3 separate regions of the Homo sapiens genome follow, and regions 2 and 3 are each linked to region 1. Evidence: fine-mapped expression QTL. A gene starts in region 1. Each other region holds a variant in brackets. All regions are shown on one strand. Distances are between the middles of the regions.

Region 1 (2,764 bases):
AGAAATATGGGATGGATTTAAATAAATCCAGTTTCACTCAAATTCCAAGTCAAAAATCAAATCAAAGTGTCAGATTGCTTAAATGATTCTAACCTGAGTTCGATTTCTAAGGTGCTCTTAATTTTTCAGTGATAGCATTTGCTTTTCCCAACAATAGCAAAGGAAAACTGGAGGGCAAGTTTTGCAAGGAAGAAACTGAGCCCCAGAGAGGTCAGGGTTTAGTGTGACGTCCCAGCTAGGAAGTGGCGGCTGGGACTCCCTGCAGGTGTCTCCTGCCAGCCCTCTGTGCGCTGGGCCAAGCTGCTTGATTTGATTCACCAGCGTGACACCGTGCATCTCCACATCCGGTGTTCTCACGTATCATCCCTGGCGATTATCTATGTGTCTATTTTTTAATTTACTGACCTCTGGAGGCCTGTCCCCGCCATCCCTGACTCCTAGGCACTGGACAAGCCCCCTCCTCGCCTCTTCCCCCAGCCCCGCGCATTCCACCTGTTCCGGGGCATCCCCGCTTGCTCCCTTCCGCTCGCTGCCTGTCCCGGGACCTGCGTGAAGCCCTCAGCCTCGCCACTAGCCCGGCAGCCGCTCCACTACCGCGCCGCTGCGGGTGGGGCCAGCGCGTCCCCCGGACGCGTGGAGGAGGGATGGAAGTGCGGGGGTGGGGGTCGCGCAGCCCCCACTCACCTTGCTGGCTGCGGGCGCCGCCGCCAGGAGCACCAGCAGGAGCGGCAGCAGGAGCACCTGCGGCCTGGGGGCGGTCCGGGCGCTCATGGTGGGCGCGCGCTCAGAGCCTGGGCGAGTCCGGGGACCCTCAGGCTCTCAGGCCACCGCGTCTCCTGCGCAGCGCGGCTCTGGGAGCCCGGCTGGAAAGCTCGCCTCGCCACTCGGCCGGGGCGGGTTTTGTAGGGCTCGGTCGCGCGGTTCGTCCCTCCCCACCCAGGCTTTTTGGTTGTGGCTTCAAGGGAGGGAAGACGTGGCTCAGGTCCCGCCCTCATACCCCCTCCCTCCCAACTTACCAGGCAGTGTCCCTTCTACCCGGGCATCGTGCCCAGGAGGCGAGAAAGGGCTGGGCGCCTGAGGGGCAGGTGGGCGCGGATCCAGGGTAAGGGGTTAAGGAGGTGATGCTCCCAAGGTCCGGGGGCCCAGGCGGGGAAGTGGGGTGCGGTCGGAGGTGGGGCGTTTGGGGGTGTGCGGTGGGGAGGTGGCTGCGCGGTGGGGAGGTGGCTGCGCAGGGTGGAGGGAGTGGCCAGCGGCCCTGCCCAGATTAAGCGGGAGGCGCGCCGGGCGTCTGCACTCGGGAGGCCCCGCTTGTTCCCCGCGCCCGCGGCGGTCCGCGTTCCCCGCCTCCAGCCCGCCTCCAACTTGCGGCCGCCGGGCTTGGCTGCGAGAGCGCCGCGAAGAGGCAGCGGGGCGCGGGTGGATTGGGGCTGGAGGTGCGCGTCCCGTGGGGTGGCAAGGCGGCAGCTCCTGGCGCTGCGGGCGTCCCCACAGGTAAGGCGCCCATAGGTGGGGCAACCGCTGTCCCGGGGCCCCGGCACCTGCCTGGGAGGGGCAGTGGAGGGAGCGTGGCATTCAAGGGGTGGTGGCGGGCCCAGCTGGGGAGTTGTGGCCCGGGGGTCACCAGAGGAGAGCGCGTCTGGCTCCTGGGCTTGTCTGCCTGGGCTTTAACTGGGTGCTGTGTGTTTTGATTAATTTGGAGGCTCGAGTTACCGGCCTGGCAGTCGGGGCACTCCAAAATGCCAAGAGAAAGAGGCAGCTGAGGAGAAAGAGAAAGCCCATCTTATTCTCCGCTGAGTTGAACTGCTTTTCAGGCCAAATCTTATCTGCGGAAATGCAGGGCAAAACAAGACTCAGCTCTGGTCAGGGTGCGCTCTTCCTGGGGGTGGCCTGCGATGCAAATGTGCCAGGGCACGGTCCTCCAGCCGGCTCTCGCCGTTTCCTGTGCTACGGACCACACTGGCTCTGGTAAAGCAATTAGACTGTTTCTCAGAAGAATGTTGTGAAATGCATAAAATACAATTAAATCAGAATCAGTTTTATTGGAATGCAATTATGGAAGTCCTCAAGTCGTGATATAGTAACTAACACAGGTGCATCATCATTATTGCATTAAATAGCTTGATTTAACAGCAGGCCGATTAAGCAACAGTAATGTCAAAGTAGTGATGTCTGCAAATGGTATTTTGAGATAATAGCCCAAACTGAAATGTGACATGAAAATACCGGTGGGTGCAAATTATCAAGAACTGCCAATACTACTGTGCTCTGTTGCCTGTGCTCATAAGGGAAGGACATGTTGAACTTCTGTGACATGTTACTAAAAGTAAAGATGCAACTTATTTTCCTATGTGAGTTTCCTATACAGATCACCTGAATTCCATCCTCAGGTTAAGAATCTTTGCTTTGGAACAGTGTTGCTGATATTTGCTGCAATTGGCTTCAGACACCAAGTATGATCATGCAGTTGGTCACTGATTTTAGGGAACCACTTGCTTGCAGTTAAATTTGGGATCTATTGGTATCTTAGAACTTTGTAGCCATGCAGGTAGGCAAAACCCTAACAGTGAATGAAGACACTCCTCCCATTCTTTTTATTTTGACTATAGCATGAATCTTACAGTCTTCTTTCTGTCTTTTATGCCAGTGATTCTCAACTATCGTTGTGCATTAGAATCTTTGGGAGGATAAAACAATGTTGCTACCCAGACCATTCCAAGCCAATTTTATCAGACTCTCTAGCTGTTTTAAAATTTCCTGTACATTC
Region 2 (2,764 bases), 27 kb before region 1:
GATTTTATGCTGATTAAAATATTTGGGCTTATATTTTATATCTTTTAATTTCATTTTCTTTTAATTTTTTATTCTTATATTTTAAGAAAGTATTGGCTCACAATATAATGGAAATGTAAAAACAAAACAAAATTTTCTTCACTATAGAAAGTTTGAGAAACACTGTTCCAAACTCTTATTTGGGTTGACTCGATTCGTCAAGGATTGTTCATTCATGATTCACACTCACTCCCCAGGGGACAATGAAACCTCTCTCCCTGCCCTCCAGGACACCCCTAACCTTCTCCCCACCCTTCACTACAACAACTACCACAAACACACACTGAGCAAAGTCCCAAGGGACACTTGCAGAGATTGAGGACTTGGGGCACATGAGACCGTCAAGTGATCTCCATACAACCACCATTGTGGTGGGGTTTGAAGACTTTCAAAGCCCCAATACCAAGGGTGGGACAGGGGTTCACATTTATGTATACAGCATCATTTGATTCCACAATTAGCTGAGATGAAAAGAGGGTAGAGATGAAAAGGTTGGTTTTCATCCTGCCCTGGTCAGGGTCTGAGGAAAATGAAATGAGCAAGTCAAATATGATAGTGTGTGCTAAACCACATCTAACATTTCAAAGCATTATGTGCACATGAAGAAATTAAATATTTAATAAAATGGTAGGGGAGAAAGACAACAACCAGACACAAACTTAGCCTTCTTCACAATTCTATAACTAGGTTTAGACAAGCTGTTCAAGACAAAATTGATAGTCAGAACCTGGAGTAATAATTGTTTGGGATTAATTTACCATCTGTTTTTCAATGACGTTTTGCAACTGGATGGTATAATTACCGTTTATACTCTGTGTCAAAAGCAAAGAGAGATAAAAATGAATACTTGAGCACAGAGAGATAAAAATGAATGCTTGAATTTAGAGCAAATTCTTCCTTTTTAAAGATTTGCTTTAGAGATGAAGAAATTCACTGTACACATTCACAGAGAAATTTAAGGAAATATGACTTTCCTTCGATAATTTTTTTCCCTTTCCACAATTCTCAAGTGTCTGTTTTTGATAAGGGCACTGCTGTTGAAGAAATTGCCAAATTTATTCCAAGGTCTTTGTGTTTTGTAAGAGAATCTGTAATATTCTAAGTTCTTCTTATTATTAGCGTTCCAGAAACTAATTATGAAAAAAATCTTTATTTTTAGCCTTCATAATTACAAAAATAAGAAAATGATTTTCATTTAAGGTAACCTGAGATATGCCCAGTAGTTGTAAACACAGTTGTCTTTTATTAGAATAAAGTTTCTTGCAGGCCATAATGTAAAA[C/T]TTCAGCTACATCTGTCTCCAAGATGAGTTATTTGGCCGACTTTGAAATCTGATCATCCTGATTTGCTGAGTCACTGTAATCTCCCATTGCAGCCCCTTGGCAGGTTCTTTGAATCCTTGATGCGGGGAATGGCCAACAGGGGAGCTCCACAAATGCACCGTGGATGGAGCCATTCAACATTTGTATGTGGCTGGTAAAGAGTGATTTTGTGAACTGCTTTTCAAAACACTTCTTAGCTTTCTTTATTGTTCTTCCTGCCCCCTCACCCACTTAAATTTTTTGTTTTTGCCTAAAGTCTGAATTCAGAAAATAGGTCTTTTGTATATGCCAACAGTCTTAAACTTTTGCGTCCTTTACAAAAAAAAAATCCATTTCTGGGAATGTGTACGAGGAATGTACTTCCAAATCAAGCAGAGTGTCATTGGCATGATCATAGCAGTATTACTTATAATAATAAAAATTTTGTTATTCCCCAAGTATCCAAAAAGAGCAAAGTGGTTGAGAAAATTTAAATGTCAAAAATTGTTTCCATGGCCATATACGTATTATTTATGTAGTCTATTTTTAAGAGAAAAAAGACATAAAATTTCATATATAATAACCTTTGCATCTATTTTTTAAAAAATTCTATACATAATAGAAGTGCTAGAAGAAGATGCTAAAAACATTAATGATATTGTCCTTAAGTAGTAAACTATGATTTGCTTTTTTCCTTTTAACTTTTCAGAATTTTGCACATTTTCATTAGTTATGACATATTACTGTTACCCAGTCTGGAGTGCAGTGGCATGGTCTTGGCTCACTGAAACCTTCACCTCTTGGTGTCAAGCGATCCTCCCACATCAGCCTTCTGAGTAGCTGGGACTACAGGTGTGTGCCACCAGGCCTGACTAATTTTTTAATTTTTTGTAGAGACGAGGTTTCGCCATGTTGGCCAGGCTGCTCTCAAACTCCTGAGCTCAAGCAATCTGCCTGCCTTGGCCTCCCCAAAGTGCTGGGATTAGAGCCACGATGCCCAGACTACCTATTACTTTTATAATAGAAAATAATTAATACACTTTGTTTTAATTAGTGATACATTTCAACCTCAAAGAATACACAAAGTCCCTCTTCTGTTACATATTTTGATCCGAAATAATAAACTGATATGTATATATTCCTAGATGACATATAAAACATATCTATTTATGTGTTTGCTTCAGACTGTAGAAGTGTTTCCATTTTAGTTCCTCAGGAATGGGTACAGACTGTTGTGAGAAGCATCATGCATGTCCATATTTTAAAAGGGAGTCAGGATCTGCAAGAAATGGAATTCAAGGCATGTTTGCAGAGCCAGCAGAGGAAATATAGTATCATGGAGCAGGCACGCCAAGATGGCAGTAAGGGAGAAGCATCACTCTCTTGAGTTACCTCCAGCTCTTGAGGGACCTGCATGTGCCTTGCA
Region 3 (2,764 bases), 64 kb before region 1:
ACACTGACTATATTGGTTGATTAACCAAATATCATTTGCCTAAGAGCACAGACACATTACAATGTTTTATTTAACAAAATATTGGTTAGAGACCCCAATGGTACTTGATGCTTATCCAAGAAAGGTGCCAGATCAAATATATTACACAAAGGCAGCAAGCCTTCCAGGAGTGCGGATCAATTGGGTCTCACACTCTTCTCTTGATCTCAATTCTCGCAGTGCCCGTGTGCCACCCATGTCTCACCTGCACATCGCTTTCTCTTATGAGGCAAAGTGGTACAGGGTGAAGGGCACCAGTTCCAGAGACGTACTTCCTGGGTCTAAATCCCAGCTCTGCCACCTCACCTCTGTGAGTCTAGGCAGTCTCAGGTGTCTCGGTTTCCACATCTGTGAAATGGGGTCAGATTGGTTAGCACAGGTAAGCCCTTAGAAGAGTTCATAGGATACACTGAGGGCTGTTACTGTAGGCTGTTACTAACTCATTGACTTGACATGGATCATTAGGTGCTCCTGAGTTGAGGGTTTATCACTTTCCCTAAACTGCAGGTGGGAACGGTGTCTCACAATTCCTTATATCCCCCTAGCACTGTAAACAATTATCTTTTTATCCTTAAAACTCATGAAGGATCTCATTAAACACATCCATTTTTATTGTTCGTTAAAAGGATCAGGAAATATGCACATGCATTTTTATTAATAGACCAGAACATAATTTCCAAATAATCTTGACTATTTCTCTCTCTACTGTCAACAGCCAGCATGCTCGTTCCTGTGCATGCTGGTGAAACAGACGTGGCCTGCCCTGCCTTTCTCCAATCTCTCTCCCGCAGCCCAGCCCAGCCCAGCCTGGTTTAATAGCAGGGGGAGTTGGCACCGTTCACAGCTGGTTAACACCCTACTGAGCAGGTCTGTTGATTTTGCATTATGATTACTGACCCTGCCAGTCCCTCTGCCCAGCCAATAGCCTGAGGGGAAAGTTTTTGTGTGTGAAAAGAAGAGCTGACCAAGTATAGCCAAACCGTGCCAGACAGACGCCACGAGCTGTCCTCTGCAGGGCCGCCTCTGCCCGTGTCTGCCTTAAGCAACCAACCATGTGCCCTGGCACCATGCCCTCCAGTGAAGAAGAATGACACCCATGGACTGCTTTGCGGGATGCCCCCGCCTGCCCCGCCCTGAAGCTGCTGTCACCACCCTTGGACATCAAAGAAATCTCACTGCAGCTGCCACTTCCTATCCCTCAACTCCCGTCCAGAGACACATCACTAGTCTAGACATGTAAGCCAGCCACCCGTTTTTGATTTTCTGGATGACAGCAAGCATACAGATTACTAACTCTGACAAAGACGGTGCAGTGAGGGCTCTCTGGTACATTTGAGAATAAATAATATGGTAAGAAAATTTTGCCCGTCTTATGCAATGCAGAGAATGGTAAGTATACCTATAATCATTAACTCCAGGTTCCTTTTTTTTTCTTTTCTTTTTACCCCCTAAAAGGTTTTGAATGCAGAAAGACTGAGAAAACTTCACTATTCATGTAAGAAAAATAGGCTCCACGGGATCCCTTGATCAGGATGGTGGTAGAGGAAATGAACTTCCATCAGCACTGTAATGATCTCAGTATGTTTTGAGCACTTTCAGTGCTG[G/T]CTGTCTCATATTATCTCATTATATCTTACAACAATTCTGTAAGGGAGGTACTGTTATAAGCTCCATCTAATAGATGAGAAACCTAGGATTTTGAGAGGCTAAGGATAGTAAGGAACATGGGGAGTGGGGATCTGAATTCAGGTGAGACAGTCTGACCCAGGGTCAGTCATATTCTCAGGTGCAGTGTTGCATTTCTTCTTCTTCTTTTTTTTTTTGAGATGGAGTCTTGCTCTGTCACCCAGACTGGAGTGCAGTGATGCAATATTGGCTGACTGCAACCTCTGCCTCCCAGGTTCAAATGATTCTCCAGTAGAGATGGGGTTTCACCATGTTGGCCAGGCTGGTCTCAAACTCCTGAGCTCAAGTGATCCACCCACCTCGGCCTCCCAAAGTGCTGGGATTACAGGCGTGAGCCAGCGTGCCCGGCCTGTATTTCATTATTGACGGGCTCTGCTGGCCACAAGGCACTGGGGGAGGAGGGGTATGTTTCTCCCCCTCTCACCCTATCACTGTGCCCCTCATGATGGGACGTAAAATCCCAGTGAAAAACATAACATAGTAGCTCATGAAATTAGCTGTATAATGCAGGACTTGGCAGACAGCAGCTTGCAGGACAAATCCAGCCCTCTGCCTGTTTCCATCCGGCCTATGAGCTAAGACTGGTTTTTATATTTTTCATGGTTGAAACAAAATTAAGAGAGAAATAACATTTTGTAATGTGAAAATTATATAAACTTTAAATCTCAATGTCCATAAGTTTGCATTTCATCAATACAAATGTTGTGGATATTTATTTTCTCTCTTGTTATATAGGTATCTGCATAGTAGCCTTCATTTTGCCTCTTGGCTTGCAAAGCCTAAAATATTTACTACGTGGCTCTTTATGGGAAAAGCTTGGTGATTCCTGGTACAAATTATCTTCATTATATTTTTTCTATGGCAATATAAAAATTGCATTAAAAATTAAGATAGAGGCCAGGTGCGGTGGCTCATGCCTATAATCTCAGCACTTTGGGAGGCCGAGGCAGGTAGATCACCTGAGGTCAGGAGTTCAAGGCCAGCCTGGCCAACTGGGGGAAACCCCGTCTCTACTAAAAATACAAAAATTAGTTTGGCATGA

Alleles and levels. Positions count from the first base shown, and alleles are read on the strand shown. Sizes are in standard deviations (SD) of each study's normalised expression. Not every link is listed here.
For the expression in skeletal muscle of the gene that starts at base 1,293 in region 1, C is the high allele of the variant in region 2 and T is the other (moderate effect, 0.61 SD a copy in FUSION).

The links. PIP is the estimated chance that this variant, and not a neighbour inherited with it, causes the effect.
Region 2: its variant is fine-mapped to the expression of COL4A4 in skeletal muscle (FUSION, PIP 0.95).
Region 3: its variant is fine-mapped to the expression of COL4A4 in thyroid (GTEx, PIP above 0.99).

What each region holds. Positions count from the first base shown.
Region 1 is chr2:227,162,734-227,165,497 of GRCh38, reverse strand. It overlaps COL4A4 (collagen type IV alpha 4 chain), which reads left to right and starts at 1,293. Exons shown (of 48, transcript NM_000092.5): 1 at 1,293-1,491. It overlaps COL4A3 (collagen type IV alpha 3 chain), which reads right to left and starts at 874. Exons shown (of 52, transcript NM_000091.5): 1 at 685-874. The coding sequence starts at 771. RefSeq lists silencers at 641-820, 1,041-1,420 and enhancers at 1,691-1,790, 1,065-1,966.
Region 2 is chr2:227,190,208-227,192,971 of GRCh38, reverse strand. The region is part of intron 1 of COL4A3 (collagen type IV alpha 3 chain); the gene reads right to left. Among named protein-coding and RNA genes, the nearest start is that of COL4A3, 27 kb to the right of the region's middle. RefSeq lists an enhancer at 1,050-2,249. The variant C/T (reference allele first, on the strand shown) is at 1,320.
Region 3 is chr2:227,226,623-227,229,386 of GRCh38, reverse strand. The region is part of intron 1 of COL4A3 (collagen type IV alpha 3 chain); the gene reads right to left. It overlaps MFF-DT (MFF divergent transcript), which reads left to right. Exons shown (of 14, transcript NR_102371.1): 11 at 755-906; 12 at 1,495-1,617. Among named protein-coding and RNA genes, the nearest start is that of COL4A3, 63 kb to the right of the region's middle. The variant G/T (reference allele first, on the strand shown) is at 1,644.